2 linked regions of the Homo sapiens genome follow. The protein of the gene in region 1 interacts with the protein of each later gene in a pairwise test. Each region holds a gene or a part of one and is shown on either strand. Other genes may lie near its edges.

Region 1 (7,286 bases):
GCTTTCTCTCACCCCATTCATCTTTGTTTCATGCCCTCCCCATTTCCACCTCATCCCATTTTCTCTGGCCCATCCAGGTGCCATTCAGCAAATGACCTTGGAGTGCCTGCTCTGTGCTTAGCTCACAGTTGGCCATAGTGCCTCGAAGGTGTGATCTGCTCTCCCCTAACTGTATTAGTTATCCAGTGCCTGTTGTATTGGTCAGGGATTCTGCTTCTCATAGCTCTATAAGTGAGTACTATCATGATCCCCACTTAAGAGGAAGACACTTGGGCCCATGAAAGGGACTCCAGAACCTGTGCTCTTAACCTCTGTACAGTTTATCTCTATTCATCACCATGACATCAAAGCCCTCCCTTTTTTTTTTTTTTTTTTTTTTTTTTTTGAGATGGAGTCTCGCTCTGTCCCCCAGGCTGGAGTGCAGTAGCACGATCTCAGATCACTGCAAGCTCCACCTCCCGGGTTCACGCCATTCTCCTACCTTAGCCTTCCAAGTAGCTGGGACTACAGGCGCCTGCCACCACGCCCAGCTAATTTTTTTGTATTTTTAGTAGAGACAGGGTTTCACTGTGTTAGCCAGGATGGTCTGGATCTCCTGACATCGTGATCTGCCCACCTCAGCCTCTCAAAGTGCTGGGATTACAGGCATGAGCCACTGTACCCAGCCGCACCCCCCCCCTTTTTTTTTTTTTTTGAGACAGAATCTCACTTTGTCTCTCAGACTGGAGTGCAGTGGCATGATCTTGACTCACTGCAACCTCCGCCTCCTGGGTTCAAGCGATTCTCCTGCCTCAGCCTCCCGAGCAGCTGAGAGTACAGGTTCCCACCACCACACCAGGCTAATTTTTGTATTTTTAGTAGTTCACCATATTGGCCAGGCTGGTCTCGAACTCCTGACCTTGTGATCCTCCCACCTCAGCCTCCCAAAGTGCTGGGATTATAGGTGTGAGCCACCGCACCCGGCCAAGCCCCCGTCTTTTTAACCACACACTGTAGGTATTTGTAGAGAAATCAGTTTCTGTGTCCCCATGAACACACCAGGAGCCCCTCAAGGCTCTGTACAGGATGACCCGTGACCCTGTTAGGTAGGTGTTAGTGTGTCTCTCAGAAGGGAAGCATCTTATACAGGGTCACATAACCAGTAACTAGCACAGCCTTTTGAGGGTCTTCTGGAACATTTGGGTTGCTAAAACTATACCATACCCCCAAATATATTGTACATTCTTTGCAGACTTTGCTATTTGCCCGAAGATGTTAAATTTGCCTTTTGCAGGTTCTTGGCTGCCTTCGTGGACTCCGGTGAGGCTTTTTCCTTCTTTCTTATGGAGCAGAGTCGTGCCTGGTTAAATGATTGGCCATGTCCATGTACATGTCAAGTTTGAGCTTGGGAGGACAGTTTGGAGGCCAGCCCTTAACACTTTGTCTTGGGGTCTGTACATTCTGGAGGCGTTTGGCTCAATTTGTTAGTCACACCGTTTTCCTAAGGCTACTTTTTTTTTTTTTTTTTGTCTATTTTTTCTGATCCTTCTCTCTGGTCTAAATTCTTCCTTTGATCAAATCTAACTTTCTTCTATGTAATGGGCACCGAGGAGATATTTGGAGGGGGAAGAAAAGTGTGCAATGGCCATACCTCTTTCCTTGCTCACATTTTATACATAGCCCAGAGTGATGTGAAAATTACAGTTTATATGCCCAATCTGAGAAGAGGGTAATGGCCACCCAGAGGACTGTTCGAGCAGGATTCTGAGGCTCCCTGTAGACAAACTGCAGGAAAGAGTGCAGCAATGGGAATGTTCTAAGTGGGGAATGGGAATGTACATATTTTTGTAGCCTAAAATGACGACACCACCAATAATAGACAAGACTTACTGAAAGCCCACTGTCTGCCACACAAAGACAGTGTTTTTTACGTGGATACTCATTTCATCTCCCACCGGCCCTATGAGGTAGGAACTCCTGTGATCCCTGGTTTATAAAAGAGAGACTAAGGTGCAGGAAAGAAGATGCTTGCCCAGGCTAGTGAGTGTGGTGCCAGGATGTGGGCCCAGGCAGTCTGGTTTCTGAGCCTGTCCTCTTCACCACGGGGCAGTCATGCATCAGGTGTTGCCTTCAATGGCACCATCATGTAGAGACTGCATGGACCCCAGGGCCGCTGCCCTTGCATTGTCAGCCTTACTTCTGCACATCCCATTGAGGGGCTCCCCCTAAATTTTTCATGTGGGATGGAGACTGGAGGTTGGGGCAGGTAGCCTTGACCCCATTGTTGGTGGTAGTTTCTCACATCCCCATCCTCACACAGCCCCCTCCTTCCTGCCTGCTGGAGACAGCTGGTGCCCAGCATCTTGTTTCTGTTTATCCCAGATAGCCAGAGTACTCTGCATTCTTCGTTGCTGGGTGTGTTTGGAATCTCCTCCTACCCCATCTTGCTTGGGAAGCACTTTACCTTTTGCCCCATGTCACCCCATGCCCTGCTCTCATCCCCAGTACTCCTTCATACTTATTACTGGTCAGCCTTCAGCCAGCTGGCAGGCGGGGCCTGCAGTCCAAGGGCCTCAGACTCACCTTTCTCTCCTGAGGCACTGTCTGAGCGCCTATGGAAAGCTTACACTAGGAGATGGGTCAAGCGCAAGTCTGCTCCTTTGGAATCATCTTTTGCGTCTTTCCTTTCTTACGTCCTTCTAGATACCCTATTTTATATCCATGTCTACTTCCTTGGGTTTAAAGCAGTTTTCCTTTCTCTCCATCCCCACCGTCCACGGCAGGTCTCCCTGTCTATGGTAAGAGAGGTGATAGTGAAAGCAGCAGCCATCCCAGGTTCATGGTAAAACACATACCATCTCCTGTATCTTGGGTTTGAGGGTCTAAGAGTTCCACCTGTGTACTGTTGGACCCTTCCACCTGGCTAGGTTGGTGGCATCCCCAGTATTGGTAAAGGACTCCTGGCCCTATTATTATTAATAGCAGCTCCTACTTACTAAGAATTTACTACGTGCTCGGCACTTTACAAGCCTAGTCACATTTCATTCTCACCAAAACTCTAGCAGGCAGGTGCTTTTTATTTGCCTATTTGCCCAGAGAAGCAAACTTCTTTCTGATCCAAGCTCCATGTGGACAGAGACCTCAGAATCCTTAATGTCTAGCTGAATACCTGGCATAGAGTAGATGCTTAATAAATGTTCCCTTGACTGGGTGCAGTAGCTCATGCCTGTAATTCCAGCACTTTGGGAGGATTGCTTGAACCTAGAAGTTCAAGACTAGCTTGGGCAACATGAGGAGACCTCATCTCTACAAAAGTCCCAGCTACTCAAGAGGGTATGGGAGGATATCTGGAGCTGGGGAGACGGAGGTTGCAGTAAGCCGAGAATGTGCCTCCCACCTGGGTAGCAGAACAAGATCCTATCTCAAAAAATTAAAAACATTTACAAATAAATAAAATTTCCCTGGAAAAATGGCTGACTAACACTATTTGTATATGGTAGATGTGATTGTCCCTGTTTTATGGATGAGGAAAAGGGTTTGGTGCTGAGTTTGAAGAGGAGCAGTTCAGGATGTGTAGCCCCACCTTCCTCATGAATGATGGGACGGTGCTCCTGGGAACCGTTAAACCCTGCCCTGGCAGCTTGCCTAGGTGATGTCTTCCTCTTTAAATGGTAGCTTGTGGTGAAATTTCAATCCTTTCTGGGTTAAGGACCTGTTTGAAAATTTGTGACAATTGTGAACCCTTTCTCAGAAAGATGTATGTGCATACAAGACTCAGTATGTTGTTTCGGGGGCTGACCCTGCCTCAAAAGACAGGGCCACGTGCTCACTCTCCTTCCCACCCCTCTCTCTCGCTCTCTGTTGCCCAGGCTGGAGTACAGTGGTGCCATCACAGCTCACTGCAGACTTGATTTCCCTGGACTTAAGTGATCCTCCCACCTCAGCTTCCTGAGGCACTGAGACTATAAGCACACGCCACCACATCCAACTAATTTTTTTTATTTTTTGTAGATATGGGGTTTTGCCATGTTGCCCAGGCTGGTCTCGAACTCCTGGGCTCAAGTGATTCTCCCGCCTCGGCCTCCCTAAGTGCTGGGATTACAGATGTGAGACATTAAGCCCAGCCCTGTTCTTGTATTTTAAAGTGCTCTGTCTGGTAACCCCACAAGATAATCACCATTGCCATTGCTAAATAGCATTGTCCAGGCCCTCTGGATCCCAGCCCTGACCCCCTGTGGAAGCCTAGCGACTCTATGTCCTCATGGAATAGCCCCCGCTTCTGCATCAGTGTGTTCCTTGATTAAATGTGTCCCCTTAGGTGATAAAGGCCACAGCCTAAGAACTGCCACCTTTCTCAGTTGAATAGTCATGAATAATTATTTCTGCTGTTTGCCCAATGGTGGTGCAACACAGTGTTAGTCATTGTTTTAGTTTTAAGGTGTTTTTTTGTTTGTTTGTTTTTTGTTTTGAGACAGGGTCTCACTCTGTTCCCCAGGCTGGAGTATAGTGGCACTATTACAGCTCACTGCAGCCTCAATGTCCCAGGCTCAAGCGATCCTCCCACCTCAGCCTCCCGAGTAGCTGGCACCTTGGGCATGCATCACCATACCTGGCTAATTTATGTCATTTTTCTTTTTCTCTTTTTTTTTGAGACAGAGTCTCACTGTGTCGCCCAGGCTGGAGTGCGGTGGCGCAATCTCAGTTTACTGCAACCTCTGCCTCCTGGGTTCAAGCAATTCTCCTGCCTCAGCCTCCCGAGTAGCATGCCACCATACTCGGCTAATTTCTGTATTTTTAGTAGAGACAGGTTTCACCGTGTTGGCCAGGCTGGTCTCCAACTCCCAACCTCAGGTGATCCGCCCACTTCAGCCTCCCAGAGTGCTGGGATTACAGGCGTGAGCCACTGCGCCCCACCTATTTTAGTTTTCATATAGACGGGATCTCACCATGTTGCACAGACTGGTCTTGAATTCCTGGGCTCAAGTGATTCTCCCACCTCAGCCTCCCAAAGTGCTGGGATTACAGGTGTGAATGTGCCTGGCCCTGGCCTGTTTTACATTTTTGAGATACATAGTTTAACCCAGGCAAATACATTTCTTAATCTCATGTTAGGAAAATAAGGTAATGTTTGGAGAGGTTAAATAATCTCCCCATGGACACACAGCTTGTAAGGGACAGAGCAAGGAGATAGGACAATCAAAATTGTCTCCAGACATTGCCAAATAGCCCTTTGGGAGCAAAATCGACCCCAGTTAAGAACCACTGCCCTAGACTGCTTTTAGAATTTTTTTTTCCCTCTATTCCTCTTAAAGCACTTGAGCTAAACCCTCTTTTCATTTTTCTCCCCAGGCCCTGTCTCAGCGGGACCCTCCTCACAACAACTTCTTCTTCTTCGATGGCATGAAGGGGAATGGGATTGTGGAGTGCCTTGGCCCCAAGTGAACTCAAGATTTGGCAGCCCCAGAGATGCCAACTGCAGCATGCCCACCTGTATTCCCTGTCCCCTTCCTTCATGAAGGCATCTCCAGGCAAGGAAAACTGAAGTCATTGGCCCGATACAAAACATTTCCTGCAACGAAGGAGGTGGTGCCGACGTGCTGCTTCCCATCACCAGCAGCTGCTCGACAAGGGGCGCAGGGTGGCTGTCTTTGTTCCAGCACTGTTCAGGCTGCCTGTCATCCCGGGCCTGCCAGCTCCCCTGAGTGATGAGCACTTCCAAGCACCCCTCTGCCCTTTCTCTGTCCTTATGCTGTCCCGGCCTCGCCAGCCCTCTGGGGCATTGTGGGAGATGCCTGCCAGGAATGAGCAAGCTCTGTTGCTCGGGAGCCTCTTGTCACCTTCTTGGACTTATTCCCCACCTGATACCTTATAGAGAAAAGTGTGAATTCAGGTGGAGAGTAGGCCCAGGCCCCATGAGGCACCAGTGGAAGCACAGCTCCAAGTTCAGACAGGTGCCCTTAGAGAGGAAAACCATGACAGGCAAATGCATTTCCTCTGGAGTTTGAGACCCTGACAAACAACAGGTGGCATCTGGTGTGCTGTTCTTGAGTTTTCGTTTAGGATTAGTTGAGTTCCAGCTGGGTTTTGGGAGAAAGGAGATGCTACCAAGTCTTGGATGTTAGGGCGAGACCCTGCAAGTTGAGTATTAGAGAGCTTGTCTTTCAAGGCAGGTTCCTGGGGCTTCAGGGCTAGGAGGGAGGAGCCTGCCCTTTTAACAGAACCCCAGTCACATGCGGCTCAAGTCACTCAGAGGCTGTTGCATTTCAGGGCTATGTTGGTCCTTTGTTTACCTCCTAAACCACAGCTGTTTGTGTTTCACATATGTTGTGAATTTTCCTTGGTTCTTTTTAAAGGAATGATAATAAAGTTACTTGCTTTAGGATTTGCTTGTTTTTCTTCCACTTCAGAAGCTTCTGAGAGGGAATGGGATGATCCTACCAGTTGCCTTTTCAGACCTGAGGCTCTAACTCAAGAGATTCCTCCTCTCCCTCACCATTCCTGCCACCATTTTTTCTGGGTGATGCAGCAAGAGTTAAATTGTTCACATTCTAGAATGTGTAGAAGCTTCTGGCTCCAGTTGTCTAATGGATAATTCAGCTAAATAGTGGCTATTTTCAGTGGCAAGAATTATAATAATAAAGGGAAGTCAAAAGTGATGCTTCATATGCCCCAAGTGCCACAGCCGCTACGGGTCAGAGCTTTTATTGGAAGACCAGGTTTGCCTTGATGCAGCCAAAGTGCGTTCCAGTTCACCCCACTCTTGCTTGTGTTTCTTCTTTATGTAAATTGTGTGATGTTTCAATAAATCAGTCTCTTTCCTATTCTGATCCTGCAGCAGTTAGTCGGGGAGAAAAGTGGTCTTCACTACAGAAGGGCCTCTGTTCCTCAACCCTGCATCACCTGCTCCCGCCGGAGGTGAGACAGGGGCTGCATTTCGGAAAGGATCCGTGTCTCGCCACCTTTAGTGCAAGTCAGTGGCGTCAGGGTCAGCAGTTACATTGCTGCATGAATTTCACGTGGTCTTTAAATTCTGAGCTAATTATACTCTTGACTGTAATGTGCAGCCTTGGTCACAAGGGGGAGCAGGTGGGTCTGGATTGATAAAAACAAAATTGTAGAATCGTCCCGGAAGCTTCAAACTTTTCCACCCTGTACCTCTAACGGCAGAGATTAAGTCACCCAGAGGACCCCTCAGGAATCGAGGGGAAAGCTGCCAGCCCCAGGCAAGAAATGTCTAGTTTCTACAAATTTCATAAACTGCCACATGATGTTTGTATTAATCATAAAAATGAAGAAAAAAAGGCCAG
Region 2 (4,711 bases), on another chromosome or scaffold:
TTGTTTGGGGAAAGAGGGCAGAAGTCCAGAGGCTTCCAGGCATTCGTTTCCCTCCTGCTTCTCAAGCCCATGTCTTTTAAATCTTTGTTTTGTGTAAGATTCAGGGCTCAGGCCTTGAAGGGGAGGACAAGGGAGGACTTGAGAAAAGCCTAAGAGAGGACCTCCTGCCTCCACGGCTTACAGTCCCACAGTGCAGACACTGACGCAGGGCACCCGCCAGAATGTAACTGCCCTCCTTCCTGGGAGCCAGTTTCAAGAATGCCATCCTGTTGCCCCCATTAACCATCTAAGTGGCTCAGAAATACTCATGATTCAGCACCAAACCCTTAAACAGAAATCTTTTGTTCCACCACATTCCCCATATTTAGCCTGAGATGAAGACAGTATTCAGGGTCGAGGTCCAGAGAGTGAGCTTCAGCGAGCTTCCAGGCTTCTCTTCACCCCTCTCTTGTCCTGGGGTCCTGAACTGGGAAGAGAAGCTTTTCAGCAAAGCAAAACCCCACCAATGGGGGGACTTGAGGGATCCCACTAGAGCCTCCCTGAGTGGTGGCCTTGGGTGTATCAGAGCAAACCGGAGCCAGACAGAAGCAGTGATCCAAGGATGGCCAACCCCACAGGCACCATTGCAGGCTAGGAACCATCCATTCCCCAAGACCCCCTCTCCTCCCATTACCTCTTTGTATTCCAGAAATAACTTGAAAGGTGGCAGACCTGGGCCCTGTTTGCCAGATGAGTTCAACTCCAACCCAGCTTTCCATTCAATTTAGCCAGAAAAGACGAGGGCAATGAGACATGCCAGGGTTCAGGCACCTTCCCACTGAGCCTCCCCAGGCTGCCCATCCTGCAGGTGTGCAGAGCCTCACCTTAAGGGCCGTCAAGCCCAGATCCCCTTTGACCCCTCAGCAGTCTAATCTCCCTGGGTCTTAAGAAAGAAGACTCTCTGTCCTGGCACTGTTTGGGCAAGGCTAGGGAGGATCCCAATGACCTCTCAGTGCACTTGATTCTTTGGGGTTCCACATGCAATTGTTTTCTATTGCCCTCTCCCTATTGCAACGAGGGTGTTGAAGGTCAAAGCAGCCATAGGGGGAAGGGGCAAGAAGCCACTGTTCTCATTCTGGCCAGAAACTCAAAGGTGAGGCCAGAGAAGGAGGAAATAGGGCTGGAGAGGAGTTAATCTTCGATGATCAGATAGGCCAGAGAAATGAATGATTAACTTGTGTTGTCTTAAAGGTCAGCAGATGCAGGGAAGGCTATGGTGCAATTTTCCTTTCTGACCAGCAGTGTTGTTGTTATTTTTTTTTAATGTGTCCAGGTTCCCCATATTATTACAGTTCCACATCAAGGCCGAGTGCACCGCCCACCACTGCCACGGCCTTTGACCATCTGTAGTTGCCATGGGGACAGTGGGAGCGACTGAGCAACAGGAGGACTCAGCCTGGGACAGGCCCCAGAGAGTCACACAAAGGAATCTTTATTTATTACATGAAAAATAACCACAAGTCCAGCATTGCGGCACACTCCCTGTGTGGTTAATTTAATGAACCATGAAAGACAGGATGACCTTGGACAAGGCCAAACTGTCCTCCAAGACTCCTTAATGAGGGGCAGGAGTCCCAGGGAAAGAGAACCATGCCATGCTGAAAAAGACAAAATTGAAGAAGAAATGTAGCCCCCAGCCGGTACCCACCAAAGGAGAGAAGAAGCAATAGCCGAGGAACTTGGGGGGATGGCGAATGGTTCCTGCCCGGGCCCAAGGGGTGCACAGGGCACCTCCATGGCTCCATTATTAACACAACTCTAGCAATTATGGACCATAAGCACTTCCCTCCAGCCCACAAGTCACAGCCTGGTGCCGAGGCTCTCCTCACCAGCCACCCAGGGAGTCACCTCCCTCAGCCTCCCGCCTGCCCCACACGGAGGCTCTGGCTGTCCTCTTTCTCCACTCCATTTGCTTGGCTCTTTCTACACCTCCCTCTTGGGCATGGGCTGAGGGCTGGAGCGAGTCCCTCAGAAATTCCACCAGGCTGTCAGCTGACCTCTTTTGCCTGCTGCTGTGAAGGTATAGCACCACCCCAGGTCCTCCTGCAGTGCGGCATCCCCTTGGCAGCTGCCGTCAGCCAGGCCAGCCCCAGGGAGCTTAAAACAGACATTCCACAGGGCCTGGGCCCCTGGGAGGTGAGGTGTGGTGTGCGGCTTCACCCAGGGCAGAACAAGGCAGAATCGCAGGAAACCCGCTTCCCCTTCCTGACAGCTCCTGCCAAGCCAAATGTGCTTCCTGCAGCTCACGCCCACCAGCTACTGAAGGGACCCAAGGCACCCCCTGAAGCCAGCGATAGAGGGTCCCTCTCTGCTCCCCAGCAGCTCCTGCCCCCAAGGCCTGACTGTATATACTGTAAATGAAACTTTGTTTGGGTCAAGCTTCCTTCTTTCTAACCCCCAGACTTTGGCCTCTGAGTGAAATGTCTCTCTTTGCCCTGTGGGGCTTCTCTCCTTGATGCTTCTTTCTTTTTTTAAAGACAACCTGCCATTACCACATGACTCAATAAACCATTGCTCTTCATCTCAGGCTTTGGGGTTGGCTGGGGAAGGAGGCATCCCGGGGCTGGGCTTTCTCCCAAGAACATCAGAGCTGAGTAGCCGACAAACTCACTTTGGGGCCGTGGGCTGGAAGGGACCATCTGATGCCCCAGAGCTCTGGCTTGGCCTTCTCCCTCTGCCTTTAATTCACGTTGAACGCTGGGTACCTCACTCATCCCAAGTTCTTCAACACTGAGCAAATGCAAGGATAGCACAGTACTGAGCCAACCATAGACTCCCCACAAGGAGTTGCTGTTGTTATTAACAGGAAGCCAGAGAATCAGCAGGGTGGGTTAGTGAGGGATCCGGGAATAGCTGTGACTGGAGCCTGCATAAACAGCTCTGAAGGGAGAGAGAAGACTGGGCTCTCTTGTGTGCCAGGCACAGTATGGAAGGCTTCATATAAGTTAAGCTGAAATTAGCCCTGTTTTACATACAGCTTCATTTTACATATGAGGAAACTGAGGCTTTGAAAAAAATGAGATGTCTTGTCCAAGATGAAAAGTAGTAGATTCAACCAAGTCCTCTTACTCTAAGCCCAACGCTTTTACCCAAAACCCCAGAGTCCTCATCAGGGATGCCAAATGGTTCTAGACCCAGTGGAGGTTCTGGAGCTGCCACTGGGGATTTAATTTCTTTTGATTTGCTAAAGATTTGACCTGACTGAATGGAGAGGTAGAGTGTAGTGTGGCCAGGACAAGGTGAGGGAGGCTGTAGAGACTTAGCACTTTAGGCCAACCACCTCCAGGAAATCTGGGAAATGCAATGTGACAGCTCGGGCTCTGCACTCCAGGGGGCTGTCTGGTGTCCACATGGACCTTCTCCATGTGGGACACAGCTGGAACAAGGGGGCAGGGGCCTGCAGCTGGGATGCCCAGGTGAATATGGGCAGCTGGACAAACAACACTGGGATTGAGTCAGATAGAAGGGGCCCAAGGACTCCAGGGCTGGGAGGACAGAGGCTGGGAGAGAGGGCTCTTACCTCCTTAGGCCTCCCAAAGAGCGGTTAGGGATGCTGCCATGGATGGCATGGCAGGGGGAACCCTCCTGGAAGAAAATCCATCTCTTCTGAAGGGATCTGAGATGCGGCTGGTTTTTCAATGGCAGAACTTCCCTCTGCAGCGCGACTCCGAATCCATGACATCTGAGAGTCTTCCTGACCACAAACCTCTGGGATCCCGAGGGCTCCCTACCCAAGAATCACTTTGAGCACAGCATCCCAAGGAGCCCATAGAGCGATCCCTTGCATTCACAGCCACAGCCCCTCTGGGGACACTCTGTACCCCCGGCAGACCCTTTCCAACTCACAACCAATAAAGGGGCTTGGGCTGTGCTTTGACTAAGGTGACCATGGTTTAAAACTCGCCTTTCTTTCCCGGAGGTGAGCTGGGCTTGCCAGGAGCCTCTGCTCAGAGCGGGTGTTTGTTGACTGTGGGATGTGTTCCCCATGTAACAGGCCTTGGCTAGTACCCATCCAATATTCTGCCCATGGTCAAACCATGGGTCCCCTTTTCGGGCTCAGAAAATAAGGCCATTTATGTATCGGGCGAAAGAAAGACAATTCGACGTGCCCCGGCATTTGGGGTGGTGTTGGGAGGAGTCAGGCTGGCACATGGGGGGACGCAATGAAGAAAGGTGGGATGGCAAGGACAGGGAGGACACGCAGGGGGCTTTGAGGGTTGGCCGAGGGGCCACTTTCACCTGGGGTAGGGAGGGCGGCTTCTGTGAGTGGTCGCAGGTGAAGGGGGGTCGCTTTATGGTGCAGGGGAGCCAGGGGTTCTCTGGGGGTGGTATGTGTGTTTGTAGGAGAATTGGGGATGAGGATGGGCCCAAAACATTGCTGAGGCATTGAGAGCACTGAGGGCCTATCCCTTCCCCCTGGAATAATCCCTTTCACTGCTCATGTAGAGAGACCACCTGAGCTTCCCAGGCAGTTTACTCTTAACTTCTCCCTGGTCCATTACCCTCACTCCTCTTCATCCTCAGGTTCTAGCACAGGCCAGGCCAGCCCAGGGTGCTAGGAGCTTGCAGGAAATTCATGTGGACCAACCAACTCTGGCAGGTCAGTGGGTTTCTTGCTGGGAAAGGGGGCAGCTGGAACCCTGCCTGGGGCCCACCAGATGAACAGAATTGC

The links.
Region 2: the proteins of SAE1 (region 1) and PAX8 interact in binary tests that used the Homo sapiens proteins (3 or more experiments, as listed by UniProt).

Annotation. Positions count from the first base shown.
Region 1 is NC_000019.10:47,203,831-47,211,116, forward strand, and holds the end of SAE1 (SUMO-activating enzyme subunit 1), read left to right. Parts: intron 1-5,328; coding exon 5,329-5,421; coding exon of another isoform or gene 5,422-5,495; 3' UTR 5,496-6,806; downstream 6,807-7,286. UniProt on the Homo sapiens protein: The heterodimer acts as an E1 ligase for SUMO1, SUMO2, SUMO3, and probably SUMO4. It mediates ATP-dependent activation of SUMO proteins followed by formation of a thioester bond between a SUMO protein and a conserved active site cysteine residue on UBA2/SAE2.
Region 2 is NC_000002.12:113,215,211-113,219,921, reverse strand, and holds the end of PAX8 (paired box protein Pax-8), read left to right. Parts: intron 1-1,312; coding exon 1,313-1,389; 3' UTR 1,390-3,925; downstream 3,926-4,711. UniProt on the Homo sapiens protein: Transcription factor for the thyroid-specific expression of the genes exclusively expressed in the thyroid cell type, maintaining the functional differentiation of such cells.